Linked DNA regions of Homo sapiens: all the other regions are linked to region 1. Evidence: fine-mapped expression QTL. A gene starts in region 1. Each other region holds a variant in brackets. All regions are shown on one strand. Distances are between the middles of the regions. Region 1 holds the start of PARP8 (poly(ADP-ribose) polymerase family member 8). Region 2 has its middle 94 kb from the start of PARP8. Region 3 has its middle 110 kb from the start of PARP8. Region 4 has its middle 29 kb from the start of PARP8. Region 5 overlaps PARP8 (poly(ADP-ribose) polymerase family member 8). Region 6 has its middle 49 kb from the start of PARP8.

The links. PIP is the estimated chance that this variant, and not a neighbour inherited with it, causes the effect.
Region 2: its variant is the best candidate, but not a certain one, in a credible set for the expression of PARP8 in whole blood (INTERVAL, PIP 0.61).
Region 3: its variant is the best candidate, but not a certain one, in a credible set for the expression of PARP8 in whole blood (INTERVAL, PIP 0.56).
Region 4: its variant is the best candidate, but not a certain one, in a credible set for the expression of PARP8 in whole blood (TOPMed, PIP 0.53).
Region 5: its variant is the best candidate, but not a certain one, in a credible set for the expression of PARP8 in T cells (GENCORD, PIP 0.53).
Region 6: its variant is the best candidate, but not a certain one, in a credible set for the expression of PARP8 in whole blood (TOPMed, PIP 0.60).

What each region holds. Positions count from the first base shown.
Region 1 is chr5:50,663,775-50,668,868 of GRCh38, reverse strand. It overlaps PARP8 (poly(ADP-ribose) polymerase family member 8), which reads right to left and starts at 2,232. Exons shown (of 26, transcript NM_024615.4): 1 at 1,683-2,232; 2 at 744-798. The coding sequence starts at 1,773. RefSeq lists silencers at 1,108-1,437, 2,130-2,189, 2,240-2,389 and enhancers at 410-1,609, 1,045-1,957.
Region 2 is chr5:50,570,480-50,575,479 of GRCh38, reverse strand. No RefSeq gene overlaps it. Among named protein-coding and RNA genes, the nearest start is that of PARP8, 94 kb to the left of the region's middle. The variant G/T (reference allele first, on the strand shown) is at 1,948.
Region 3 is chr5:50,553,660-50,558,753 of GRCh38, reverse strand. No RefSeq gene overlaps it. Among named protein-coding and RNA genes, the nearest start is that of PARP8, 110 kb to the left of the region's middle. The variant G/A (reference allele first, on the strand shown) is at 2,332.
Region 4 is chr5:50,635,037-50,640,130 of GRCh38, reverse strand. No RefSeq gene overlaps it. Among named protein-coding and RNA genes, the nearest start is that of PARP8, 29 kb to the left of the region's middle. The variant A/G (reference allele first, on the strand shown) is at 2,397.
Region 5 is chr5:50,738,702-50,743,795 of GRCh38, reverse strand. All of the region lies in intron 2 of PARP8 (poly(ADP-ribose) polymerase family member 8), which reads right to left. Among named protein-coding and RNA genes, the nearest start is that of PARP8, 75 kb to the right of the region's middle. The variant TC/C (reference allele first, on the strand shown) is at 2,978.
Region 6 is chr5:50,615,251-50,620,344 of GRCh38, reverse strand. No RefSeq gene overlaps it. Among named protein-coding and RNA genes, the nearest start is that of PARP8, 49 kb to the left of the region's middle. The variant A/G (reference allele first, on the strand shown) is at 2,423.

The DNA of each region.
Region 1 (5,094 bases):
TCTTTTAAACTACTGTGTCCCTAAAGGGCTAAAAGGAAGAAAATCCTAACTCAACAAGTGAAGGTAGCAAGGCATAGTATTTGAATGGCTACCTTTCATTTTAACTCTACTTCCTAAATTCAAAATTGGATTTGGGTTTGTTTCAAGTTGTTCACAATTTACTAACGAAATGTGCATCTCTCATTCTTCCCCCAAAAGAAAGAAGTCATCCACTCCAGCTACATATAAGTCTCCAATTTCTATACGTGAAAACCGAAATACCACTCATTGAAAAAAAAATGTACAGAGAATTGGCAGGCTGCATGTTTATGTAAACCTTCAGAAAACATGGAAACACGCAGCCCCAACTCACCAGGAAAATCAACACTTCTGATCAAACTATTTTGTGACATTTTATGTCTTTTATACATTTCACTTCATATCCAGTATTCCAGTTTTGCACCGGCGTGCCTGTATCAACCCCAAATCGCCTGAGAGCAATCTAGTACTGTAGCAGAACAGTTTCAACATGAAGAGTTCTGCTCATTGCCTGTGGCGTGGTCCTCGAAACACCTGAATCAAACATTGATTCCCCTCCTCCTGCTATTTAAAACCGAGGGACGTCAGGCTTGGGTAGCAGGTAAAGAAAAGCCACAATAATCAAACAAACAAGCAACCAAAATACCCGAACACGGAACACGCTAAGAACAAAGGAAACACAAGAGTGTGAACAGGAAATGAAGCAACTCTATACACATAAATACCTTCTGGGGCCGCCAACGTAGGTAAAAGTAAAGGTGGAGTCAGAGTATCTGAAATCTGAAACAGAAAGTCCCGTCAAAAGCTACCCCTGGAGTGGATTTGTTTTAACCCCGATCAGGACTTGAGCCCCACATTCGGTGGTGTCAGGGGAGGCCTGGCCGGGCAGAAGGCAAGGGCTAGAGGGCGGCGAGGTCCCTCTGCGCCGCGTCCGAGGGGATGCGGCGCGCCCCCGACTGGGTGCAGCGGGAGGCCGCCCCCCGCAACAAGTGCCGGGTGCCATGGCAACAGCGGGAATTTCCCGATAGGGGAGGCCGGAAGCAGCCTCAGCCGGGCTCGCGGTAGCGAAAGCAAAATCCCGGGGGAGCAAAATGGACGAAAGGCGACCCCCAGGCAGGGGCGCTGGGTGCCTTGGGAATCCGAGGAATCCCTTCTCTTTGCCAGTCGGAGGGGACTAGAGGGAGCCGAAGGGGCCGGAGATGGGCCGAGCGCTGCCCCCCGGGGGTCCTCGGCGCCGGGCGCAGCTTACAAGCGCAGCGCAGCGCAGCAGGCTCCATTCCCGGCCGCCGCCGCTCAGCCCATTGCGCAAACCAACCCCGCTCTGCCGCCGCTGCTGGAACCCAGGAAGCGTGCTTGGAGGCTTCGGGCACTACGCGGGGCTGGAAATACCACGCACTGCCCCTTCGCCTAGACCCCCGCTCCGGCCACGCGGGCTCTGCCCTCAAAGCTGGTGGCTGCCTCAGACTTGGCGGTGGGGGAGGGGAAGGGGAGAGGCTGGCGCCCCCTCCCCCTTTTGGCTCCCGCGCTCGTTGCAGCAGCTGTTGCCAAATGAACCCCAGAATGGGGACGTGCAACCCTCCACCCCACCCCCAGCCACAGACGTCGCGGTCAGAAAACTGGGAAGGGGGCGCTGGGTCCGAGGTTCTGGAAAAGCAAGAACTCACCTGCAAACAGGCAGTCCTTCTCAGCTCTGGACTTCTGGATCACGACGTCGATATCCTTCTGAATTCGCTCTTGCCTTGAACACATCCCCATTAAATAAATCCCTGGAAAAGAAGCAGCCGCTATTTCCACCCCACCCCACCCCCCTCGCACGCTTCCAGCTTTCGTAAATATTCAGTTAAAAATGAAACCTCTGGCCGAGGCAGGGGCTGAAGGCGAAGTGGTTTCGGAAGTGATCCTGGGTGAGAGAAGAGGAGGAGGAGGAGGGGGAGGAGGAGGAGGAGGGGGAGGTCGGCTTTGCATTCCCAGATGTGACCGCCCAGCTGCTGCTCGCCGCTGCTGGATTCCAATTTCCTCCCCTTCTGACAATGGATGGTGATGACACCAAGTCTCACTTTCTCCCTCACCCGCCCGGACCAACGGCCGTGGGGGCCGAGGTGCCGGGGACAGCCAGAGAGCAATCACCGGCTGGGCGGCGGGCGCCGGCGAGGGGCGAGCCCCGCTCCGGCTCACGCGCGCACACCCCTCACGGCTCGCACGCCGGCCTTCCACACCCGCGCACACTCGCGCCCGCGGGCGGCGGCAGCCGTGCCCAGGCTGCTGCAGCGCCGCCCGCCCGCCGCAGACCCTCCGCGCCCGCCGCCTAGTCACCCCGCCGGCCGCGGGCTGCCGGGGCTCGCAGAGTATTAGCCATCCCGGGCGGGAGCCGCTTCTCCCCACACCGACCTCCACTCGCGCCGGGAGCTGAGCGGTCGTGAAGACTCCCTGGGGCTCCCAGCCTTCCCTCTCCGCGCCCCTCCCCCCATCACTTTTATGAATTCGACTCCACTTTCTAAAGGAATTATAGTCTTGTGGCAAACCCAAACCGGAGTGGCTGGGAGGGGGAAAAGGGGGGAAAAGAAAATCTTTAAAAATTAAAAAAATAATAAAACGAACAAATCTTTCCTTATTGCCACATCACATAACACGGAAAAGGCCTTAAAATTACTCCAGACGTGCACCCTCCCCTTCCCTCAGTGCCTGAGTCTTTTTCCTCCAGATCGAAGTAGTTCAGCCCTTTTGGGGCGCCGTTTACGAAACACAGCCCCTTTTGAGGGACTTCCTCCTCTTGAAACTCACCAGTTCTCCCTTCCTAGGTGTTTCTGTTCATGAGAAATGGTCAGAATCAACTGGCACGTTCCAGGGTCTTCCTAAAAGATGGAAACCTGTTTGGCTTGATTTTTAAAACCACCTCCTTTGACAGTCAAGGGAAAGCTACAATCCAGGTGTTCAGAAATGAGATACTGCTCTGATTCTCACTTTCTGTTCTGCCTAAGGACACCCCAGGCTGACGTAGCTGCCCCACCTCTATATTGGTTTATGCCCTAGGAGAGGTCTCCAGCAGGCACTTTTCTTGTTGATCTTTTCTCCACTGAGAAGGCTCCCGCCAGTAGACCATGACTCCTTTTGCTTTGCATACTCAGTGCCATGTACAGTGCCTGGAATACAGGAGGGTGGCCTAAATGTTGGCTGAATGCACGAATGGTCATTTCTTGCAGCCTCTTTTCATTACCCTGTCTCATCACTTTTCTTATCAGCATAAGTGCCCAAGAGTTGCCAAACTGTTTCAGACCCTTAATCAATTTAGTTCTGATTCTGACCGTGACAACATGATGTTCAGCACGGTAGGAATGACTGCCATCCCTGAAGGAGTCTTAAGATTCTGTAGAATCAATGAAAGATCCTATGTTCTAACTCCTTTATCTTTCAGGAAACAAATTACAAAATAATTTCCTTGTCCAGTCATATTCACTATGAGTTACAAAAGGAAACATTCTGCATTATTGAGATCCACTGCAGCCTTTGATGTAGTAAAGCCACAGTCACAACAGTCTATATCTCCTGCTCAGTCCTCTCCTGAAATGCTTCCTGTTTAGGGTAGGACAGGTTCAAGCCCTTTGTCCTTCCTGGATATGTTGCTTTGTGTAGGCCCTTTGGCTGCCAAAAATGCTCTCTTCTCTTCCACATCACCACTGAGAATCATGAGTATTTCTTCTTCCATTATGTGCTTTAATTTCTCTGAAAGGCTGAAAGTCTATTAACTCACAAGAATTTATTTTATAGTTATCTAGCCACAAGGCTTGCATCTTCCAAGTAGAACCCTTACTACAAATAAATGTGAAATAGTTTTAAAGCTACCAAATATTTTTTTGTCTGGATGAGCTCTTAGTTTACTACTCACTCCTTAAAATAGGCCTTCTTGTGACTTGTCCTATATTTGATTTTTTTTTAAGCTTCATGGGCTGCCCTGTTTTGGTTAAACAAAGCTAACCTCACCCTGTTCATGCCCTTAAGGTGTGATGTATTTAATAAATATTTGTACATTTGAAGGAGTAAGATTAAAAAATAAAAACCTATCTAGTATGTATTTCTGCAAGATAAATTTCTCTAATTAAAAACTATACCAACGTAGATCCTTCCAAGGATCTTCCAGGCTAGATCCTTATGGAGCACTTTGCTCAAAGTAAGTCAGCCCATATCCAGGATCCTTTCTTTACCTTGCCCCATCTCCGAATATTTAAATGTTTATATTATGTGTGCTCAACATACTTCCCTTATCAAAAACTATATGCGCCTTTGAGATGAAACAGTTCTATCTCTCCTTAAACACTCATGAGTATACAACATACACACACATGCATTCAGGAACGTGGCACATAAGAGGCCCTTCACCAATTTGTTAAATAAATAAAATCAATATTTACAGTGAGGGAGAACTCAGGTGGTATCCCAAACTAAATTGAAGATAATAATCTACATGTTGGATGATAGACTCTACTGAAAAAATTCCACCGGTTTAGAATAATGATTCAAAGCCACCAGATATAATTTATTAGTGAAAAATATAAATTTTTTGCCTGTGCCAAAAGGCCCAACTGCGGAAGTATAAGGTAATGGACATGCGGCATTAAGTTCAATAATGTGATGTGGGTATTAATAACTAACATTTATCCAGAACTTAATATTTATCCAGAACTTATCCAGAATTCATTAACATTTATCCAGAACTGGTAGAAACTGTTCTAAAAGCTTTACATATAGTTACTCATTTAATATTCACAATAACCCGTATATACTAGCTGTTATTTTTCTCATTTTACAAAAGAGGAAACAGGCTCAAAGGGGTTAATTCATCTAAGGTGAGACATGGACTACAAGAAGTTTTTTTCTCTCTTGAAACCTTTCAGCAATTGAATTGAACTTAAAGGAATAAATATGTACAGAAGCCACACGAGGAAGTAAACCGCCCCGCCAATGGCTGCAGGCCAGGAGTGAAGCCGACAAGAAGCCCTATGATGGATTTTGAGGAGGGCTGAAGCCTGTGGACTCTCAAAATAGCCTCTGCTAGTGGCAGTTATATTTCCCTTTCTTGCA
Region 2 (5,000 bases), 93 kb after region 1:
TACAGAAAAGTGTGTTAAGACTTATAAGAGGCTGGGTGTTGTGGTGCACACCTATAATCCCAGTACTCTGGGAGGCTGAGGTGGGTGGATCACTTGAGGTCAGGAGTTTGAGACCAGACTGGCCAACATGGCGAAACTTCGTATCTACTAAAAATACAAAAATTCACTGGGCATGGTGGCAGGCACCTATAATTCCAGCGACTCAAGAGACTGAAGCAGGGGAATCACTTGAACCTGGGAGGTGGAGGTTGCAGTGAGCAGAGATCATGCCACTGTACTCCAGCCTGGGTGACAGAGTGAGACTCTGTCACACACACACACACACACACACACACACACACAACTTATAAAGGAAAATATTTTTTAAATACTTGAAATAATTATACTATGAAGAAATATGATTTACTTGTCATAAAGAGCAAATGTTTACACTAAGAAGAGAAAAAATTTCGCTAAACTTTTGTGACATGAACAGACAAACCTGAATTTTTAAAAGATATTCACAAATAAAATATAAGCTAGTTGATTTAGAAAAGGTGACTGCCAAGAATTAGATATGAGCTTTGGCATGTGAGATTGTTGATAAAATTACATTCAATTCATGAAAATGGAAATTTCATATCACTCAGATTAGTAGATAATTTGTAAGTATTCTTTGAATGCTAACTGCATACACAATAATGTGCAAGTTTACCTTTCAGAAGGAAAAAATTTATTGGTTATTTATAATGATACATCCAAAGGTAATCATAAAAATAAAATAAAATAGCATTGACTAATTTTATAAACACTGAAGGAAAACAAAATAGAAGAGTAACCATGGCAAGAGCTAAATGGAACACAATTCTTCCTGATGGCTTAAAACACTTTCTTTTGTGTACTTTCATTTTCTTATTTGCAATGGATTCCTTAGGTATTCATAAAACGTGTTTACAACCTTCCTGGTTTGATATGAGGTTAACTCCTTTATCATGGAATTTTAATATTAATGATAGTTTTGGAAAATACTTCTCTGAAAAGTTATTTTGAGAAGAAAGACTTTCTATGTATAAATATCTAAAACCAGCAATTATAGTGGATCTCAGGGGAAGTTTGAGATCTTTTTCTTCAGAGTAGCTAAAGAGCCTTTCAGCAGCATATCCAAAGAGCCTTTCAGCAGCATGTCTCTGGGGACTGCATTGAGGAGCTGAAATTTCCCTGGAGAATATAATAAGAATAAAGACAAAATTTTTATTTTGGCTTCGGAAGTGACAATACTTCCTTCTGGAGTTTAGAGAATTCAACTTGAATTTAAAGTCGGCCATTTCTTCCCTAACAACGCTTGGATTGCTAAAGGGAGAACAAGTAGAAAGAATACTGAGACATCATAAATATAGCAAAATAAAACAACAACATTTTTTTCTCTCCCACCACCAAATTTTCATTATCATCACAAATATTTAGTATGTTTTTTCTTTTTAAGAAAATCTTTTTTCTTTTTTTTTTTTTTTGGTTTATATCATTAAATATACTGAGTTTTTTTTCATTTTTACTTTCCATGCTCCATTCTATCACAAAAGTTGGCAACAAATAGAACTGGGCTGAATCCATCATTTATAAATAATGGTAGTGATAAAAATAATTTTCGTTTGAATAGTTCTTTACAGTTTTTGAAGTACTTAGCTCTATCTTGTCTCATTTCACAAAATCCTTTGAGGTATGTACGACACTTGATCCAATATCCTTTTGACCTATGAGGAGATCAAGGCACAGATTTGTTGGTGACAAGTTAAAAATCAAGATGATTTTTACTCATTAGGACGAGTAAGCCTCTGGTTCCTAGCCTCAAGTTCTGAACCACAGTTCTGAGCCACAGGCTATCCTACGATGCTCCTTCTGTGCCTGGGGCCTCCTATGGCAGGTGTTTAGCTAGAAATTCTGGGCCTTTTATTTATTTATTTTTTTTTT[G/T]AGACGGAGTCTCGCTCTGTCGCCCAGGCTGGAGTGCAGTGGCGGGATCTCGGCTCACTGCAAGCTCCGCCTCCCGGGTTCACGCCATTCTCCTGCCTCAGCCTCCCAAGTAGCTAGGACTACAGGCGCCCGCCACTACGCCCGGCTATTTTTTGTAGTTTTAGTAGAGACGGGGTTTCACCGTTTTAGCCGGGATGGTCTCGATCTCCTGACCTCGTGATCCGCCCGCCTCGGCCTCCCAAAGTGCTGGGATTACAGGCGTGAGCCACCGCGCCCGGCCTCTGGGCCTTTTATTAAATGAATCTGAAAAGAACATCTTTACATCTACTAAATATGAAATAAAGTTATGTTGAGACCTGAAAAATCCAGGTGCTACATGGGAGACTGAGTGAGATGTAGCTACAATTAAGGCATGCCTGACTCTGCCCTTTTCCCACTGCCTTCTGAGTAGACTAGAGAAATACAACTAATTGATCTTAACTAAATAATTAATTTTGAGCAAGAGTTACTTTTCACGGGCTTAGGACTCTCAGCTGAAATGAAGACTACAAATACAGCACCTAGTATAATAGCTGAGTAGATATCCTCAGTTGAATTATGTCCTCTGATTCTATGACTTCCAGATTCGCCTCTTGGGAGCTTTCTAGTTTCCAGGCCTCCAAACCTTGCTACGGCTCCTTGTGGATAGACCAATGCCCTAATTTCCCTTTTTTTTTTTTAGTTTGCTTTGTTTTCCCAGGGAAAAGAGAAGGAAAATTTCCTATCTTGAAGCAGCGTATGATCTAAAGTAGCAGCTCTCAATCCTGACTTTTAAAAATATACTCACATCTGGGTTCTATTCCAGAGATTCTGATTTAATTGTGCCCAAGCAACAATATTTTTCAAAGCCCTCAAATGATTTTAGTATGTAGTTTCCTATCTATTCCCAGTAAATCATAATATAATAGCTATATTTTAGAGAGGCTCCAAAGAAAACATCACAGGGTAATGCAACACTACATGCATTTAAAACTTTAAAAGAACACAGATGAAGAAGACATAAATACTGAGAAAATGCCAATTTTGAAAAGGGATTCAGGGTTGTAATGGGATTATTAATGCAATGGGTTTTTAATTGAGTGGGGTCCACTGTTCTCATTGTCTCAAACTAAAAAGAAGAAGACTTTACAAATTGTGTTTTTTTATTTTTAATTTATGTGGGTACGTAGTAGGTGTGTATATTTATGGGCTACATGAGATATTTTGGTACAGGCATCCAATACAAAACAATCAAGTCATAAATTAGGTATTCATCTTCTCAAGCATTTATCCTTTGTGTTACAAACAATCCAATTATACTCTTTCAGTTATTTTAAAATACACAGTTGATTTTATCATTGACTATATTTCCCCTGTTGTGTTGTCAAATATAGCTTATTCTATTTTCTTTGTACACATTAAACATCCTCACTTCACCTTCAACTTCCCCACAATTCCCCAACTACCTTTACCAGCCTCTGGTAACCATCCTTCTATTCTCTATCTCCATGAGTTCAATTGTTTTCATTTTTAGATCCCACAAATAAATAAGAACATGTGATCTTAGTCCTTCTGTGCCTGGCTTATTTCACTTAACATAACGACCTACAGTTCCAACCGTGTTGTTGCAAATGACAGGATCTCATTCTTTGTTATGACTGAACAGTACTCCATTGTGTATATGTACCACATTTTCATTATCCATTCATCTGTTGGTAGACATTTAGGTTGCTTTCACATCTTGGTTATTGTAAACAGTGCTGTAACAAACATAGGAGTGCAGGTAGCTCTTCAATATACTGATTTCCTTTCTTTTGGGTACATACCCAGAAGTGAGATTGCTGGATCATATGGTGGCTCTATTTTTGTTATTTGAGGAACCCCCAAACTGTTCTTCATAGTGGTTGCACTAGTTTACATTCCCACAAAAAGTGTATGAGGGTTCCCTTTTCTCCATATCCTCGCCAGCATTTGTGATTGCCTGACATTTGAATAAAAGCCATTTTAACTGGAGTGAGATGATGTCTCATTGCAGTTTTGATTTGAACATCCCTGATTGTTAGTGATGTTGAACATCTCAATATATGCCTGTATTCAGATATTTCAGACATTCTTTTGAGAAATGTCTATTCAAATCTTTTGCCCATATTTTAATTGAATTATTAGTTTTTTTTCTTATACAGTTGTTTGGGCTCCTTATATGTTATGGTTATTAATCCCTTGTCAAATGGGTAGTTTGCAAATATTTTCTCCCATTCTGTGGGTTGTCTTTTCACTTTGTTGATTGTATACTTTTGTGTGCAGAAGCTTTTTAACTTGATGTGATCCCATTTGTTCATTTTTGCTTTGGTTGCCTGTGCTTGTGGGGTATTACTCAAGAAAATTTTGCCCAGACCAATGTCCTAAAGAGTTTCCCCAAAGTTTTCTTATAGTAGTTTCATAGATTTAAGTCTTTAATCCATTTTGATTTGATTTTTGTATATGGCAAGAGATAGAGGCCTAGTTTCATTCTTCTGCATATGAATATCCAGTTTTCCCAACACCATTTACTGAAGAGACTGTCTTTTCCCCAGTGTGTGTTCTTGGCACCTTTGTCAAAAATAAATTCACTGTAAGTGTGTGGATTTGTTTCTGGGTTTTCTATTCTGTTCCATTGGCCTATGTGTCTATTTTTATGCCTGTACCATGCTGTTTTGGTTAACATACCTCTGTAGTATAATTTGAAGTCAGGTACTGTGATTCCTCCAGTTTTGTTCTTTTTGCTGTGGATAGCTTTGACTACTCTGTGTCATCTGTGATTCCATATAAATTTTAGGATTGCTTTTTCTATTTCTGTAAAGAATGTCATTGGTATTGTGACAGGGGTTTCAATGAATCTGTAGATTCAATGAAATGAATCTACAAAAAAATGGAATATCTTTCCATTTTTGTGTGTCCTCCTCAATTTTTTTCATTAGTGTTTTATAATTTCATTGTAAAGATCTTTTATTTCTTTGGTTAATTCCTAGATATTTAATTTTGTTTGTGTCTACTGT
Region 3 (5,094 bases), 110 kb after region 1:
AGAGTAATAAAAGCTTTGTGGAAATTTGGCCTGTTAAAAATTCTCATTTCTAGCCTTATTGTAAATATTAATATTTGTAAATATTTTTCTAGTTTATTATATTACTAAGTAAATCATACAGCATAATGTTTATATATTTGTGTTTTCTGTATAAATGATAGTATTATTAAAATTTAACAAGCTCTTCAGACTGTATATTTTATTAATATATTAGTTTATGTTTATTTCCAAGTTTAGCAACAGCCAATACTTGTGAAGAAATATAATATATTACCGTTTCTGACCAAGTTCTAATATTACAATTAAACATTAGTGAGAACAAAACAGAATCCTACAACTTGGAACAAATTCATTTCTCACTTATAGACTATTTCTAGGTAGAAAATTCCAAAACCCCCAAAACATTTAAGGGAAAAATACAGAAAATACATGTCAGGTTGCTAGAAACCATCAACTTATTATCATAAGACCTCTGCTTCTTTGTATAAAACTGTAAAAGATAGACTTGCATTTCATTCTTATTTGGTATGGAATAAAATATCATGAAAAACAGCAGTGATATTTTAGCATGCAAAAATACTCAGTAGCAATTCACGTGTTCAATATTCTTCTTACCCTCAGAAAATTAACCAGTACTGATTTCAGTTGTGTTTGTACCTGTAAACCGTGCTGAACAATGACTTCATGCTGTGCTTGTAAAGCAGCTATAAGTGAGACAGGATAATATATGTGAGCTTGATTTACATTTTGGCATTCAAGGGCACAAGATAAAGAATAACTGAGATTTGGACTATTGTGGGAAGTCTCCAGAGTGGTCAGTGATCAAGTAAAGTGAGGCTCAGGATTATTTTTTTATGCATGGTGAAGGGTGCAGCTGAATTGTGTCACTGCAGCAACATTTAATAAGTAAAGGTAAAGTCATTTGGTAAAGTACTGTATTAGATGTCAGATCAAATCTAAGATAGCCACTACCATGATGAGAGAGAGAGAGAAAGGTAATATTTTTTTTTTGCTCAAACTAGAGCTTTCTCAAATCTAAGGTTGCTTTCTCAATGTAGCCATTTAGAAAGCCATCTAGAATGTTCAGAGTTTAAAAAAACAGACAACTGACAGTTTTTTATTCCTCCCAATGCATTGTCTACAAAACTCACTCTCACTGTAAGTCATGTCAGATGAGACTGGGCGTGTTTGGGGTGGTGTGGCTATAGACTAGAAGTTCTGACAGTGCCCCACATAACAAATGTCTCCACAACTGAAGAATCACTATTAACTGAATTACTCGAACATCTATTCTTAGTTACAAGATTCCCAGGTACAATCTTCTATTTTGCTTTGGGAAAATAAGTGTTTTCCATGAGTATGTTCAACTGGCAAGTGAAAGAAAGGATCAATAATAACATACATATAGTAAAGTAGATACTTTTCTTTGACATGGCAGAATTTCATGAGGAGCTGAGGTTTTAGGATTAAGCTTTCAAAGTAAGTCTATTTTTGTTGTTAAATACGACTGTTAATACATTGTATGTGGTTTACAGAAATGCAAATGGATCTATTAAACATGATGGGTTTCTCTGCAATGGAGAAGTCTCTGCAGACAACATAACAGTCAGAGTTTCACATTAAAGTCAAGACCCAGGCATGATTATTTATATATTTAGCAAATAGTGAGTAACTGCTGGAATTGTTAGTATACCACAAGGGCCATGGAGAATAAAATCAGTCATGTTTCCTACTTTCATTGAACTCATAGTCTAATGGGAGAAGACAAATGTTAATAAAATAATTATAAAAATAAGCATGTAATTAACAATCTTGAGATAATGGAAGGGTGAGCATTTTAAGAATGTGAGAGTAGATGTGAATGAGCAGGTATGAGTTTTCTGAGGAACTAATGGTATGAACTGAGGTTTGAAGAATGAGTGGGAAGACCTAGGCAAGGAGAGGTGTCCTAAGGTGAGATAAATGCCAGTGCCCAGGACCTGGGGCAACAGAACATAAAGTATTCAAGAAGCTGAAAGTCCAGAGAGGCTGGAGCTCAGTGTGAAGGGTTGAGTGAAACCTGATGATTAACCAAGCAGGGAGAAGAGCTTGCAGGGTCTGGTAGCCCACATCAAGGGATTTTATCCTAAAACTCATAGGTAAATATTAAAGGGTTTTAAGGAGGAGAAGAGCATGGTCATATGCTGAAAAGATTTTTGTATCAGAATAGAGGAGTTGTCAGCTGTCAGTGTATCAGACTAGAGGCATCAGAGGGGTTGTCAATTGGCAGGGTGGAAAATAGTATTAAGTTGGTGCAAAAGTGATTGCCGTTTCTGCCGTACTATTAATGGC[G/A]AAAACTGCAGTTACTTTTACATCACTATATTACTTTGACTAGGGTGATGGCATTGGAAATGGAGAGATAAATGGATTTGGAATACATTTAGGAGGCATAGTTAATAGAGTTGGGGAAAAGATTCGGTATGAGAGCTGAAAGAAAGTACAAGGGGTGGGTGAAAAGAGACTCTTAGGTTCCTGGCTTGTGAAATTGGAGGGATGGTGGTGCCAATTACTAAGCTAGTGAATCCCGAAAGAGGACAAGATGGTAAGTTCAGCTTTTGCTTTTTGTTGTTTATTTATTTAGAGTTAAAGGATGACTTTGGGACAGGTTAAGTGGAGATATATAGAAGAAAAAAAGGATATGTTAATTTAAAGCAAAAAGATATCTATCCTGAAGGTGTAAATTTGGGAGTCAATACATGGAGATAGTAATTGAAGCCTTTGGCCTTAATAAATTGCTGAGAGAAAGCATATAGAGGAGAAAGAAATACCTGCTCTTGAAGTATTTAATATGTAGGTATAAGAGGATACATTTGAGAAAGAAATTGAGTAGTTACAGCCAGAATACAAGAAGAAGACAAGGAATGAACAGAAAACAATGAAGCCAGGGGAAGAAAGGAGCGGTCCACAGGTACAAAAGTTACAAGGAGCCGGGCACGGTGGCTCACGCCTGTAATCCCAGCACTTTGGGTGGCTGAGGAGGGTGGATCATGAGGTCAGGAGTTTGAGACCAGCCTGTCCAACATGGTGAAACCCCGTCTCTAATAAAAATACAAAAATTAGCCGGGCGTGGTGTTACGTGCCTGTAATCCCAGCTATTTGGGAATCTGAGGCAGGAGCATAGCTTGAACCTGGGAGGTGGAGGTTGCAGTGAGCCAAGTCCATGCCATTGCATTCCAGCTTGCGCAAAACTCTGTCTGCAAAAAAAAAAAAAAAAAAAAAAAAGTTATAAAGAGATTAATTAAAATGAGGTTGAAAAATTTGATGGGTTACAAACTTAACAGGGGAGAGAATGGGGATAGAGAAGGAAGTGGGTGGGGATGAAATGGAGACTCAATATTGGCCACTGGTTCAAGAAATTTGGCTGTGAAGAGGTAGGGGTAGAAGAATTTTAAGGGGTGAGGTTTTCTGTTTTGGGCCTTTATTTTTTGTAGTTTTTGTTTGTGTTTGTTTTATTCTGCTTGAATTGAAATACTGAGAAGCCATGGAGATATTTAAAAGCTGATGTGGTTGGGGCAAGGAATAAGGGTAATTGATAATGTCGGGCTTCTGAGAAGACAAAAGAGAAGTTGATCTGAAGTACCAGTGAAGACATTGGCCTTCCACAGGAAGAGGCTTAGTTTCTTTATTTTACTTTGAAGAGGGAGAAGAGGACTGTAGAAGGAGACAAGATTGCTGGATTTATTTGTGGGAAATTTAGGTAACTCCTATCTAATGGCTTTTTCTTTCTTTTGAATGAGGGAGAGGCCATAACCAGATGTTTGATGTTAGACATAGTTTCCTACCTTTAAAATGGAATATTTTGAGAATTAGTTGCGGCAATTAATGTGAAAGCACTGCAATGACAGGTTGTTGTTTACAGCACTCATTTCCGTTGTGGAAGTGCATGTTTAAATTTAGAGATTCTTAAATTCTTTTTAACAGACTTTTTTTTTGACATTATAGTCTTGTTTCCAAATCCTTTAGAATGGAAGCAATATTATCTAAAGATATTGTGAGAAAATAAGTATATGTAAAATATTCTATTTTGTTGAAAATTACAACATAAATTTTATATATTATTTTCATTTATTATTCATAAAAATGAAGGGATAGCAATCCTCATTCATAGGCATTAAATCAATCCCTTATGGCAGTTTATTTTTGTGTGGAAAGTTAATGGTGTCATGTAAAGTGCTTTAGAGTAACTCCAGTACAATAATTCCAAGTTCTATAAAATATCCATCACATTTACATGAAAACACCACAAGATGACCAGCGTCTTTATTCTGACATTCTTCCACTTCAGATCATTTTATATCCTTAGGACCAATATGTTCGTTTTGTTTTGTTTTGTTTTGTTTGCATTCTCTTGGAGACCAAGTTTGGTCAATTCTAACATGTGAGATGAAAAAGAAAATAGAACAAAAGAAGTGGCTCACTCTTGGCCAAATTATTTTAAAAATTGCATTCATATGTACCTGGAAAGATTTTTATAATTCATGTTTTAGAGCCACCCTTTAAATAGTTTTGTAATTCCTTTCCCAAAATATTTTTAGGGGCTACCTGTTTCTGTATAAATTTAGCAATGCTGCTCATTGCTATAATTATAGCAGCCCACTCCTATTATAATTTTATTATTTATATTATTTCAAAAGACACTACCAACAATTAAACACTTTACTCAGAAATATCATAATTAAAACAAGATTATAGAGTACTTCAGTCTTTGGGATGATCAGAATGTAGTGCAGTGTACTGAGAACTATTTATGAAGCCTATTGTAGCCGACTCTGCACTCTGCCCGTGTCACCTAAGCTCTTAGTATTGCAGTCCACACCAGTAGACTTCTAAGGACAGCATTTATGTGTCTTTGTCTGAGTGTTTTCTCTGGCAGCCTGAGGCCACTCTGCTGTTGCCAGTAGCAGGCTGGAAGTATGAGGAAATTTTCACCCTTCAGGAGCAGCACTCGACAGGATTTAAATACCCAGCTCCCTTGCCCCGCAGTCAGGACAAGGCTGAGGTACATTTTCTACTTGGCTCCCAAAACCCCAAGTGGTAACTTGCTTAATGATACAC
Region 4 (5,094 bases), 29 kb after region 1:
CACTGACAGCATGGGAAAGAGAGACATCTATTATGAAATGACCACTAAGACATATGATTACATGACAAATGCAAAGTTCACGAATAAATAGTATGTATACTAGTATAGTGTACTTCTTTCTAAGAAAGAAACCATAACACATACAAGAATGGACAAGAAATTATTAACAATAGCTAACTTTGATGGTAAGACTGTAGGTAGTAAAAAGCCAGACCTTCGTTTCTCATTTTAAAACCAATGAGTTATTTAAATCTAACCCTACTGCATTCATTATCTTTATAATAAAATAAATATGTATAACAATGAAACATAGTTTTTAAGTATTTGGGATATAAATTAAACATTAATATATTACACCTCTTAAACTTTGTACTTTAGTATCCCAATTCTCTGTTAGAACTCTGAAAACTTCATCTTTCACAGTTTAGGTAATTCTTTGGTGTCTTATTTTGTTATTTTCTTGCCCTGAGATTAGCACTGTCAGATCTCCAAACTGCTAAGTTTTCCCTTTGGCAGATCAAATGCTTCTTCTTAAAAAAATTAATTTTTTAAAATGTATTTCGTAGGATTTTTGTGCTCTCTCTCCCTCTTTTTGTGCATATGTGTGTGTGTCTGATTAGTCTTTATTCTCTTAAAATAGTTAGTCCTGATAGACCTCTTTCTTCAAAATTTGTCTCAGTTCTTTGGCAGTTTGCTCTTAGCTTATAATTAAAGATCAATTTCTGACTTGTCTTGTTCTAGAAAACCTCAGTGGAAATTACAGAAAGCTGAATAGGATATTAATTAAAAACATAAACCTGGTGAAACCTGAACATAGAGGCTCCAATTCAAAGATGCTTCCAATAGTTGACATGGCCATTCATTCCTTAAAACCAGGTATTTTTCTTTCAAATTACATTACCTTTAATTCTGTAAATTGGATGTTATATAGTACCATGAAAACTGCTGTGAATAATTGTAATACTCATTGCTGAGTGATGTGACTTCTTCCTCAAGGCTATTTCTGAGGGAAATTGTACAATTAGATCTTTAGGTATTGTGACTTGTTTTGGAAATCATGGTGGCCCTCCAGGGAGCTAATGAATCTTTAAATATTTAGAGGTTCACATGAGACCCCTGACAGATATAAGCACATTAGCTCTGTAGTTAAGGGAACATTTAAAAACAGTAACATGAAATGTGTCAGACATAGAGGAAAGATGAAGAAGAAAGTAGAAGCTAATGCAAACAGAAAAGCTGCCAGCTCTCTATGGCACTCTATAGCTCTCTCTGTCAGTATTTGGTTGGCAATGTAGACATAGTGGATGAGTGCAATTACATATGTTAGGCTCATTCTGAAATGCAGGAGCCTTTTAAATTTTCATGTAGAAGCCTGACAAGCAAACTACATCTAGGATATACTTTGATAACTTTGAGTTGAGAGCTAAATTTTTTGAAGGTAAACCATCTCCCTGTTTTAAAGTAGTGTTTAAAATGATAAAAATCTTAATACGTCTGTAATATAAAATATTTAGATACAAATACTACAAATGCAAATGAATTTTTTTTTTTTTACTTCTGCATTCAACTTTTCTCTTCTCCCTTTAGGGAAAACACTTTTGTGTAAAGGCCTGCAAAATATATGTAGAGGTGTGTGTATGTTAAAAACATGTATACATATAATGCATAACCAAACAAATGAAATATCCTAAACATATGGACCTGAAAATTGCTTATAATAAATTTGGACTGAACATATGGGCATAAATGTGGTTCAGAAGTGTCCAGTTGAAGCAACTTCACTTTGTTAGGTCAACAAAAGTTGGGGACACCAAGATCTACTCCTCTGATTTTGTTCTAGCATTATCTTAATGGAAATGTTTACTGAAATGGAAATACCTGCAGTGGACATCGTGGTGGTACCTCAAGCATTCAGTGTTCCCTGATCTCACACACTCCTAACCAAATAATGAATTTCTCAGCTTCACAATGTTTAAGTGACATGAGTCCCATGCCCAATTCTTGGTCATTGTAATTGGTGCATGAAAGAGCATATGCCTTCTGCTAATCAAATCAGAATGAAGTACACCTTTTTCATTCCACGATTGAAGGGGGAAATGCCTTCTTTCCAAATGCAGCAGAGGAAGCACAAGGTACTAGGATTGGAAGTTGTCTACTCATGACATGATATTTTAAGCCATAGAATAAAACTGAGACCTAATGTCTTAGTCCTTTCAGATTGCTATACCAGAATATCACAGCCTGGATGGTTTATGAACAACATAAATTTATTTCTTACAGTTCTAGAGGCCAGGAAGTCCAAGATCTAGTTGTCAACAGATTCAGGGTCTAGTGAGGACTTGTTTCCTGTTTCATAGACCGCTGTCTTTTTGCTGTGTCCTCACATGGTGGAAGGG[A/G]CAAGGAAGTTCTCTAAGGTCTCTTTTATAAGAGCAATAATCCCATTCATGAGGGCTCTGTCCTCATGACCTAATCACCCCCCGAAGACCCACTGCCAAATATCATCATCACACTAGGGATTAGATTTAAATATACAAATTTTGGGGGGATACATTCAATCTATACCACTTAAGGTAGAGTGAAGAAACAGGGAAGACAAGAAACATTTATTTTGTGTCATTATTGAACTTCTGCATTAAACTATCTTGAGCCTATACTATTGTTCAAAATCTATTATACAAGCCAGTTTGAATTTTGCTTTTTATTGTTTGCAACCAAAATTAACCTAATAAATTAAAATGTACTATAATGTTAGATCGTAATTTGTCTGTACTAGTAGTATTTGCTAGAGTGTTTAGGGGAATACTTGCTTGTTAACTTTTTAGTAAATATAACACTCCATGTTCAAATACATTTGGAAAATACTGAACATTTCACACTTTTAGAGACTCAAATCAGGCAGCACATTTTTAAAAAATAAAAATAAAACCAAATAGCATTGCATTTGGAGAATGGTATAAAAAAAGAGAATTTGATAAACTGGAGTTACCAGAACTCAGTGGATACTATGTGTTAGACATTATTATAAGCCATTAAACATTTTACAAGCTTGATACCTGAGTTAAAAATTAATAACCCAAAGACTCATTGGAAGAGAAAAGATGACATATTTTTTATTATATTAACGACATAAAAATATCATAGCAATTAACCTCATTATATACAACAAATGAATGAACATAAATAATATTAAATAACTATTACAAAGTCTCTCTGATTAAACGTAGAAATAAATAGGCACTGCTTTTGACCAATAAATGGAGGACATACATTATTTTCAAATACCAAACAAAAAGATTCTAAATGTAAAGGTTTTAGGCCCAAAATATGTTAGTCAATTCATGACAGCAGAAATTCAGCAGGTCATATTTTTGGGGTAATGTAAATGGCAGTAGAAATCATGGACTAAAGTGTAACAAACAAGAAATATCTAGGCAGGTGGAAATTTTATTAAGATGTTTTAAATTAACTTCTGGACTAGAGCAAAACTTCAAACTAAAATTCATCAGGGAGTCAGGGAGGGTCAAATGAAGAAGCATGGGGATTGAGGCAAAAACCCTGAATTATACCAATATTATCTTTTTTTTTTTTTTTTTTTTTTTTGGAGACAGGATCTTGCTCTGTTACCCAGGCTGGAGGGCAGTGGTGTGATCATAGTTCACTGCAACTGCGACCTCCTAGGCTCAAGGGATCCTCCCACCTCAGCCTCTTGAGTATCTGGGACTACAGACCCTCATCACCACCACACCCATCTAATTTATTTATTTTTTGTAGAGATGAGGTCTCACTTTGTTGCTCAGGCTGACCAGTATTATCTTAATGTTACAGAAAAAAAGTAATTCTGGCCATATATAGGTATTATTCTTTGCAGTGGAATGTCATTTCAGAAATTTGTGCCAAACATAAAATTAGTTTTCTAGTAGTAAAAAGTAATTAAACTTTATAAATTATTATTACCCCTAGTATACTGGGGAATGGGCGTGTGTTCCAAATGAAAAAACTTGGGATATCTAATGAGAGGCTGTTTTCTGTAGCAGAAAATCTATGTAAAATGTTTTTTCCCACGTGTACACTGTTGATATTTGAGACAGCACATGTTAACACTTCAAGAAGTAAAATAAATGTGTTGATTATATCCACAGTTTTCATATTTATTAACTATATATTTCATTTTTAATGTAATGCCTATTGAAAAACCTGTAAATAGTTGTTGCTTAAAATTGAAAAATACTGCCTAAGATTTTTCTATATATTTTCATATTTCACTTTTCCTGTGAGTTTAGAATGAACACTTTTAGCTAAGACATTTGGGCCTCCAAATACTAAACCTCTTAGAATGTTGGTTTATTATTTGGTTTTTACCTAAATTATTTTCTGCTTATTCAAGAACCTGAGGTCTATCCAGTTACATTTTTATTTTTTTATTTTGAAACAAATTCTCCCTCTGTTGCCAAGGCTGGAGTGCATTGGCATGATCTCGGCTCACTGCAACCTCTGCCTCCCAGGTTCAAGTTATTCTCCTGCCTCAGCCTCCTGAGTAGCTGGGATTACAGGGGCATACCACCACGCCCAGCTAATTTTTGTATTTTTAGTAGAGATGGGGTTTCACCATGCTGGCCAGGCTGGTCTCAAACTCCTGACTTCAGGTGATCTGCCCGCCTCAGGATCCCAAAGTGCTGGGATTATAGGCATGAGCCACCATGCCTGGCTGTATCCAGTTACATTTTTAAGACTAGCCAGGCTTAATATATCTTTGGTCTTTAGCGCAATTCAATTTGTTGAATTTTGTCCATTGTACTTCATGTGACACAGAATATATCTTAATTTAAAAAGACATATGTTTGTTGAGCTATCTGTTACATTTGTATATCTTGGAATTTTAAAAAATATAAACCACAGAAGCCAATTATGGCTGACATTAACAATAAATAGGTTTACCACAGAAATAGTGGGGAACTTGTAGAACTGTTGAGAAGGCTAGAAAGCCAGATCAAAGCTAGGCAGCCAGGAAATGTACCCCAAACCATGCTGTAGAACTCATCCAGGGAGGAAACCACTGTCACCACCAGTAAGAAGTAACGCTGAAGCTGCAGAGAG
Region 5 (5,094 bases), 75 kb before region 1:
TTTATTTAATCAATTAATTTTTAATTTTATTTATTTATTTATTTATTTATGTTTTGGAGACAAGGTTTCACTTTGTCACCTAGGCTGGAATGCAATGGCCTCAAGCCTCCCAAACCTCTGGGATTACAGATTTGAGCCATCGTGCCTGGTTAGGTCTCAGTCTTTGTTCACTTGCAAGTCAGCAGTTGAAACCTGAGACCACATCTCACCCCCAGACACACTGGAGCTTTCTAGAAGAAAATTCACTCCAGCACTTATTAATTCTGTCTTCTTTACTCTTCAAGTGCTGCAGAGTGAAAGAGATGCTGTCCCACTACCCACCTCCAGACCCAACTCTAGTGTCTCAAGCTAGAAGGTAATTTGGGGCATACTAGAAGCTCACCTTTGCTACTTTAATGCCATTCAGTTCCCAAAACATTCACTTTCATGTTCATCATCATTTCACCCTCTAAAAACATTTTCAAATTGTGCAGGTCAATCAGCTACAGCATCCTCATTCTTCACCACTATGAGCTACAATCTTTTTGTCATTTATCCAGGGTTGGGGAGCTCTAGGACCTTCTTTTCCTCTTTACCAAAAATCTTGACATCACTCCCATCCATTTGGACAACGTTAAGCTGCACGTAGTTCCATGGCCTCGTTTTCCCTACCACTAGCTCACCAAATCTCCAAATGGCTATACCTTGAAGCTTGATTTGGAGTGAATGGCTCCCCTTCTAAAATCTCAAACCCCCATGTCCCACTTTCTAACCACAATTTTATAATTTTCCCAGCTCTCACTCCTTTCCTCTTACTTCTAACATCCTTAAACAATGCATTCACTCTGTGTCTTTACCAGTCCCTCTGAGCTTCATTTTCATCTTCCCATGATTTTAGATACCTAACTGCTCTCTCCACAGCATCTTCGACTCCTTCAATGTGCAGCGCCTACCTTGCCCCTGCAGACTACCTGATCCTACCAGCTCCAAACTGCAGATTAGGTCATATTTGCCATGCTCAGCTCCTGGACCTGGGCTCTGAATGCTGCTGGAAAGGACAATGAAACTAAGGGGCCTGGTGCCCTACAGACATGTGGTTCTCAATATTATCTATTAACAACTCTGCTCAGTAACCTGAGAAACCCATTCTTCATAAACCCCCTTACTTTTTCTTCCTAGTTGTTTTTGCAAATTTTCACAGCTTTCCAAACACCGTATAACAACCTACCCTTTCACTCTCATCAAAATGCTTTCTTTCCACATTAAGAGAGATTATCATATGGTTACTTCCTCAAGGCATTCCCTTTATTCTGTCTCCCACCAACCACCTACAAGCTCATACTCCTCTCCTTGTACCCAGGAAGAAGGAATTATCTGTCCTTGTAATCTAAGATTAATCCATCTACTTGCTGCACAGAACTCATAAACCCACACTCCATTTGGGGCTTTGTTCTATTAATTTAATCTAACAATTTCACAATTTGAAATCTATCAAACATATGTAACTATGTGAGTGGGGAAAAAAACTAGCCACAAAGATATTAATGGTAGCATTATTTAAAATAAACAAATGTATTTGTTTTTAAGCCAAACTGCCAAAAATAGGATTATATGAACTACTGCACACAATATCTGCCCCCTCCCTTATTCGGAACCACTCAACATGAAGACAAGAACACTAAGTTCTCCTTCTAGAAAATAAAATGCGGCCAGGGGCGGTGGCTCACGCCTGTAATCCCGGTACTTTGGGAGGCCAAAGCGGGCGGATCACCTGAGTTCAAGAGTTCGAGACCAGCCTGGCCAATATGGCAAAACCCTGTCTCTACTAAAAACAGAAAAAATTAGCCAGGCGTGGTTGTGTGCACCTGTAATGCCAGCTAGTAGAAGGCTGAGGCAGGAGAATCACTTGAACCTGGGAGGCGGAGGTTGCAGTGAGCTGAGATCGCGCTATTGCACCCGGCCTGGGCAACAAGAATGAAATTCTACCTAAAAAAAAAAAAAAGAAGAAAAGAAAAGAAAACACATCTTTCTCACCTATGAAATAAATTACGTATTACCCTTTACTAAGGTAAAAGGATGAAGACTCTTGCCCAACAAACATTAAGTTAGTTTCTCAATAATATATTTTCCTATTTTCAAAACTTATTTTGGTAATTTTTTAAGTTATACTTTCAGCACGTGAAGTAACAGGATCAAAAGTAATGTTTTTGTTTGTTTGATTTTTAGGGAAGTGGCCAAGTCAGCAACTTCTACGCTTAAATATTACACTGTAAGTTAAATGTCTGGACTTCTAAGTAAGCTATTTTCTCAACAGGGAGGAACCTGAGAGAACTAAGTCTGACATTGATTAGTAACATTGATGCAAGCTTTATAATGGTATTTTTAAAAGCAAGTGAGAAAATGGTTTTTTTACACTACCTTAGTTCCATGCAAAAGACAACAACATATTTAAATAAAGCTGTGCTTCTCTCTTTTTCTTTACTCATGACTACAAATAAAAGGACAACAATACAATTCCAATAAAATATGAATAGTAGATAGAGCATGTCATCAAACACTAACACCTCGATTAAATTAATTATATAAATATTATTTCCATATTGCATCCCGAAAGTTTAATATCTGAGCTTTTCTTTACTGAACACTTTGTAACTATAACTAATTCAGTATTCTTTTGATAAATATTCACTAACATGTAGATGTTTTTACCTTCACTGTTTTATATCTAAGTTCAAGTTTTAAGTGGTCATAAAAAGTTTAAAGAGGCTATAAATGATCTGCACAGCATACCAAGACGGAAAAACTAAATACGACTGAATAACTCTATAGCTCAATTAAGGCTTTGTCATGGAAAGGGAACAAACACTACAAATATTTAGAAAGAACTTCGATAGTATGATACAACCCTCAGCATCTTAAATATTTAAGGCAAATAAAATAAGTTCTTTCCAAGTTAATTTCTTGTGGAATATCAAATATATAATCTTTTTTTTTTTTT[TC/C]TTTTGAGAAAAGGTCTCACTCTATTGCCCAGGCTGGAGAGCAGTGGCACAATCACGGTTCACTGCAGCCTCGACTTCCTGGCAACAAGTAATCCTCCCACCTCAGCCTCCCAAGTAGCTAGAACTACAGACCCAAGTCACCATGCCTTGCTAAGTTTGAAAAAATTTAGTGTAGAGATGAGGTCTCAGTATGTTGGTCAGGCTGGTCCCAAACTCTTGGCCTCAAGCACCTCCTAAAATGCTGGGATTACAGACATGAGCCGCCATGCCATGCTCAAACATAATTTTAATAGCACCTAAAGCCCCCGCAAGACCTTCCCTATCTATGCGTCTCATCTTTGTCTTGCCTCACTGTGCTCCAACTGTTCTCTCTATGCTCCACTGTTCTCTCTATGCTCCAACAAAAAAGACTCCTTTCAGTTCTTGAGCATGTTGTGTTCCCTCTGCCTGGAATTCTCTCTCCCCTCCTCCTTTTGACCTGGTTAACTCAGTCTCATCCTTCAGTTCTCAATTCAGATGTCATCTCCTAAGAAAAAACTTTGATGACCTTTCCCAGACTTGATCAGATCTTACTACGGAGCAGTTACACAGTTTGTAAATATGGCTGATTGTATGACTTATTAATATTTGCTTCCCCTGCTAAATCCATAGAGTAGAAGGCACCTGTTTTCTTCCCATTGTATTTCCAGCACCTACCATCTACCTAGCACATAGTGGGAACATTATAAATATACGTAGAATGAATGCTTACTAAAAATATATAAACCCAGGCCGGGCGCAGTAGCTCATGCCTGTAATCCCAGCACTTTGGGAGGCCAAGGTGGGTGGATCATGAGGTCAGGAGTTCAAGACCAGCCTGGCCAAGATGGTGAAACCCCGTCTCTACTAAAAATACCAAAATATTAGCCAGGCGTGGTGGTGGGTGCCTGTAATCCCAGCTACTCGGGAGGCTGAGGCAGAGAATTGCTTGAACCTCGGAGGTGGAGGTTGCAGTGAGCCGAGATCAGAGATCCAAGATCGTGCCACCTCACTCCAGCGTGGGTGACAGAGCAAGACTCCGTCTCAAAAAAAAAAAAAAAAAAAAATATATATATATATATATATATATGTATATACCCATTGATCTTCCAAGTCTGAATAACCTTCCTTACAAAATTATTGTGTAAATAAGAATTATTTTATAACCAGGAGAAAGAGCACAGACTTTAGTATATGATAGGCTTGAATTAAATTTTGCCTTTACAATATAAACCTCAGAAAATTAAATTGGCTAACTCCTTTCTGCTTATTTGGATTAATAATATCTACTCCCCTAGTGTTGTGAAGAGGATTACAAGGAAGATGAAATATGGAAGAATGCAGCTGATGTAGCGAGAGGAGATGATCAAAAAAATGATTTCTCAACTCCCTCCCCACCCCCATCCCCCCACAAAAAAAATTAACGAATGAGTAAAAGCAGAATAAATCTGTAATGGACATCCAAAGGCCTCCTCAATATCCATTCCACTCATTCCTCTCCTTCTTCATATGGAAGCCCTAAGGTTTTCATGAGGAGAATCCCTTCTCCCAGGTGGAGAGGAAGACTGAATGACTGGATAAGCCATCAGGATAACAGATCCCCCTGCAATGGAAGGAAAGGAGTTACCTAGCCTGTGTCCTACACTTTGGCCTCAATGGTTGTTGGTTCAGGGTGCTCCATTCAGAGTAGAGCTTGGGACTTTGATTCAATACCTGTGGGAAGTCTCTTGCTCCTCCTAGATGTGAATGAGGAAGCAGACAGCTCTGGTCTCTGCTGGTTAGCCTTCTCACACCCACTGGGAAGCCAGTCTAGGAATGTGCTTGATACAGAAAAATGTGGAGCTTAGAAAATGTCAGAGACAGAGGCAGAGCCCTGATGTAAACTAAGCCTACGTCTCATTATCAATAATAAATTTTTTATTACATGAACAAATAACTATCCTTTTTACTGTTTAAGCCAAGCTCGTCCAAGCCGTGGCCCACATGCAGTCCAGGATGGCTTTGAATGCAACTCAACACAAGTTTGTAAACTTTCTTAAAACATTATGAGGTTTTTTTGCTATTTTCTTTTTTTTTTTTTTTTTAACTTATCAGCTTT
Region 6 (5,094 bases), 49 kb after region 1:
GAAGCATTAGAGGTGAAGTATATCCATTTGCTCGATGGGAAAAGATTTTGTTTTATTTAATTTACATAATGTGATATGCTTGGCCACCTGGAGTAGTGCCTGAAAGGGGATGTAAAATGGAAAATGTAGTCAGTGAGACTGATTAATAACCATGGACAGAAAAATAGGCCAAGTGGAAAAACTTATTCACATAATTGTTTCATTTTGCTGACTGCAAAAGGATTTGTTTTGGAAGTGATTTCTGCTATTTAACCTAGTGGATTGATAGATCACAGAAAGGTCTTAGAAATTACATTATGTAATTTTGTTCATAACATGAAATTAGCTTGAATCAAAAAATGTATACCATGTTTTGTATCTACCTTCTAAGACATTTGTCTTGAGAAATTAATGATTCTACAACATAAACAGTCATTGTGAAAGGAAGTAAACAGATAACAGAGGGCTTTCATAATAATCATGGACTCAAGATTATCAAATTTTAAAAAGACATACCTCATTTTCCTTTATTTAAACATAAAACAAATGAGAGGAAACAGAAATAGCTCATAATTTTATTTATCTGATAAAACATGCTGACATAAAATATAATTCATGCACCCAGTAAGAAAATCAAAAAATTAAATAAAGGTAAAAATGAAATATAAAATTCTCCTTCCTCTAGTTTCTTACCCCCAGACATCTAGAATCTCTCCTTAAGATAATCACTGTTGACAATTTCTTGAGTATCTTTTTAAAAATGACCTTAATACACATCCCCCACATAGAATATAGATCTTAAACAAGTTAGAAAATAAAATTTTATCTTTTAGTATTACACAAAATGATGTTCAGAACTACGCTTTGTATTTTTTTTTTTTCTAGAGACGAGGTCTCACTGTGTTGTCCAGGTTGGTCTCAGACTTCTGGGCTCAAGCAATCCTCCCGCCTCAGTCTACAAAAGTGTTGGGATTACAAGCATGAGATAAAGTCTCGCCTGGCCTAGGCTTTCTATTTTTGTTTACTAATTTACCTTCAAGATATTCTTACTTTTAAAAACTGTATTGTGTAAATATATTTTTTATTTAAACAATAGGCTACGAATAACATTAATAACATATCTTGGTTTATGTATTTTACAAGATTCTCCATGTGATAAATTCCAACCCGCGAAGTTGCTATAGAGCATATGAATTTAACATTTTTTAATTGCTGTGACCTAATATGATCCTAAAACATGGCCCTAGTTTATATTCCTATGAGAATGTCTAATACCTACAATCTTGCTAACATTGACTGCTATTGCATTTTAAAGACTCATTACTTTGATTGGATTGATGTTGAACATCTTCTGTTAATCCTGGCCATTTGCATTTCTTTTTCTACCTATTAATCTCCCTATGTATAGTATTGCATTATTTGTCTTTTTTGTCTCATCGATCGACAAAGATTAAAGTTATTGGCAGTAGGGAAAATGGAGAAAAAAATCAAAATTCAAATACCGTACAGTACGACATTTTGGAGAATAATTTGATTCTATATATTGAAGTTTAAATTGTTTTTAATCTTTGACCCAGTTATTCTATTTCTAGTAATTTTTCTACCCGAATAATAATACAGGAAAAAAACCTTTTAGAGAATATTCTTATGTTTGTGATACAATATTTACAGGCAACATAAATTCTCATCCAGAGATCAGAGTAAATATTATATAGTATATCTGTAGAATGAAATGTACCTTGCTGTTTAAATGAATAAATTAGTTATTATCATAAAATAAATGTCATGTAAAGACATTTATTTTGTGATATATACAATTAGAAAAACAAGTTATTAAAAATAACATGATTTTTTGTAAAATGTTTTTATTTTGTTTTTAATTGACATAATAATTGCACGTGTTTATGGGGTGCAGTGTGATGTTTTAGTGCATGTGTACATTGCATAATGATCAAATTTAAAAATTAATTGTATTGATAGGAAAAGTGTTTGGATATTTGTATACCTAAATGCTAACAGTGATGATCTCTGGAATGTGGAACTGCTGGTAGTTTTTCCCTTTTTCTTTTAGATATTTTTGTACTTATTTTTAATAATAAACATATACTAATTTTATAATAAAAATAACAATGAAGTCCTTTCCATTTTGAAAAATTAATTCCAATAGAAAAATATTGTACTCGAGCCACTTTCCAGGGTTTTCTTATTCTTAGTGCTGGTATAAGGTACCAGTGATATTATATTTTCAGATACATTTGGCTTTTCTGCCTTATGGTTGAAGATGAGCTTAGGAAGTTTTGCTGCCTAATTTTTGGGCGTTTGAGCCAATGCTTGGTGCACAAAAAGCACCACATCAACTTTAAAGAGAATATTCTGCTTCGTTAGACTGTATTCCCTACTTTTTATAGTATTTATTAGCACCAGAACTCTGTGACTGTTTCCC[A/G]AAGAACAAGAGAGAAAGATAAAGGAAAGTGAGAAGCAACAAAACTAGATTTAATTAATACTCTGGCTTGTCAGCAGCTTTCATGAAAGATTTGTTTGTTGAAGAAGTTGAACCTATCAGCTTAAACAGGGATTAACTCTGCCAACTCTGACAGAGCATGGACAATTAAGAGTTTATTGGAAATTAATTGAAAATAATACAGTGTTGTGAGATGGGAGGAAGATGATTTAAAGGAAATTATGCCAAGTGTTTTGAATCAGCCAAGGATAAACAAATGCAGACTATCATTTGATGGAGGTATTTTAAACTGATAACATGATTCGAAGTATAAGAATGGCAAATTGTGAAGAATGAATAAAATTACAGAGATAAATAGCAAAAATGTGAAACTAAAATAAAGAGGAACAGTGAGTAAATGGGGTTAGCTGAGAATATGGTTTAACAGGGCATACTGTATTCATTTATGAAGAAATTTCAATCCTCAAAATGCTACTCGTCTTAGTCTGTGTAGGCTACTGTAACAAAATACCATAAGCTGAGTAACTTATAAACAACAGAAATTTCTTACAGTTATGCAGGCTGGGAAGTCCAATATCAAGGCACATTTATCATCTGGGGTGAGGTCCACCCTTCTGGCTCATAGATGGCAACTTCCTGCTATATCCCCATACTTTGGAAGGGGCCAATGAGCTCTCTGGGATCTCTTTTATAAGGGCACAAATCCCATTCACGAGAATCTTGTCCTCATGACCTAATCACCTCCCCAAGGCTCTACCTCCTAACACGAATACCCTGGGGGTTAGGATTTCAATATACAAATTCGGGGGGACATAAACATTCAGTCTGTGACACTGCCATTTCGTCAGTAAGAATTTTCATGAACTCACTATTAAGATTTATGTTTATGTTTTTTATGCTGATGTTCTCACTTTATAATATTGTTTGTCTGCATAGTTTAAAGAAAAGGACAATGCCCAGTTAGAATAGGAGGTGTCTTTTGTTGGCCAGCAAAATATTTTAAGACACCTTGAGTGTAAATACATAAAGATCATTAAGGTAATATCATTTTGTTCTTGTTCTAGATCCACATGTTTCACTCAAGATCCCAGAGAGAAAACGTATGAAAACACATTAGAAGACAATAAACATCCTTACAATGCTAGCCAATGTTTATTATTGCTTTCTATGTGTGAGGAATTGTGTTAAGCACTTAAAAAGATGTCATCACTCATAATTATCATAACACCTGAAGAAGTAGGTGGTGTGATTTTCTCCAATTTAGATATTATAGGAACTGAAACAACTTGCCCACTAAACAGGCAATTGAAAGAGATAGGATTTCTATAGAAAATTCCCAGATCCACAGGTAGTGTTCCTATTCACATCATCAGTGTTCCCTTAGTGGTTTTGATATTACACCTAATACTATTTACTACACAATTAAAGCATCCACCCTATCATGGGATTTACTCTCAAGAATAGAGCACTGAGCGTGATAAATAGTATCCACTTTGGAATGCATGTTTCTATCCAGCTACTTAATATGATATAAGTTCATTGGACATTAAGGCCAGATTTCTTGACATGCTTTACCCTCAAATTAACAAGTTTGGCTCATTCAATTGTGGACCTTTAACCCTTAGGCCAGATAGTATATGAGTCCTAGAGTAGTGGAAAAAGGTAACTGAATTTACAAAATTTGACTCATCAAATTCTGTAATAATTCAATATATTGAGGAAACTTTAGGTGCATAGTAAAATTATAATTTCATATTGTTGCACAGACTCAGGCAGATGAAAGAGACTCCAATAGTGCTCATGTAGCACCCAGACAGTCAGTTGATCGTCTCTGTGCTGAAAGGATTTAAGAGTGAAGAATTTGCTCCAATGTATTTTTCAATATCTCATTGTTTTAAAATAATATTTGAAATAATACCTAGGAATCCAACTTACAAGGGATGTGAAGGACCTCTTCAAGGAGAAATACAAACCACTGCTCAAGGAAATGAAAGAGGACACAAACAAATGGAAGAACATTCCATGCTCATGGATAGGAAGAATCAATATCATGAAAATGGCCATACTGCCCAAGGTAATTTATAGATTCAATGCCATCCCCATGAAGCTACCAATGACTTTCTTCACAGAATTAGAAAAAACTACTTTAAAGTTCATATGGAACCAAAAAAAGAGCCTGCACTGCCAAGTCAATCCTAAGCAAAAAGAACAAAGCTGGAGGCATCATGTTACCTGACTTCAAACTATACTACAAGGCTACAGTAACCAAAACAGCATTGTACTGGTACCAAAACAGAGATATAGATCAATGGAACAGAACAGAGACCTCAGAAATAATACCACACATCTACAACCATCTGATCTTTGACAAACCTGACAAAAACAAGCAATGGGGAAAGGATTCCCTATTTAATAAATGGTGCTGGGAAAACTGGCTAGCCATATGTAGAAAGCTGAAACTGGATCTTACACCTTATACAAAAATTCATTCAAGATGGATTAAAGACTTGAATGTTAGACCTAAAACCATAAAAACCCTAGAAGAAAACCTAGGCAATACCATTCAGGACATAGGCATGGGCAAGGACTTCATATCTAAAACACCAAAAGCAATGGCAACTAAAGCCAAAATTGACAAATGGGATCTAATTAAA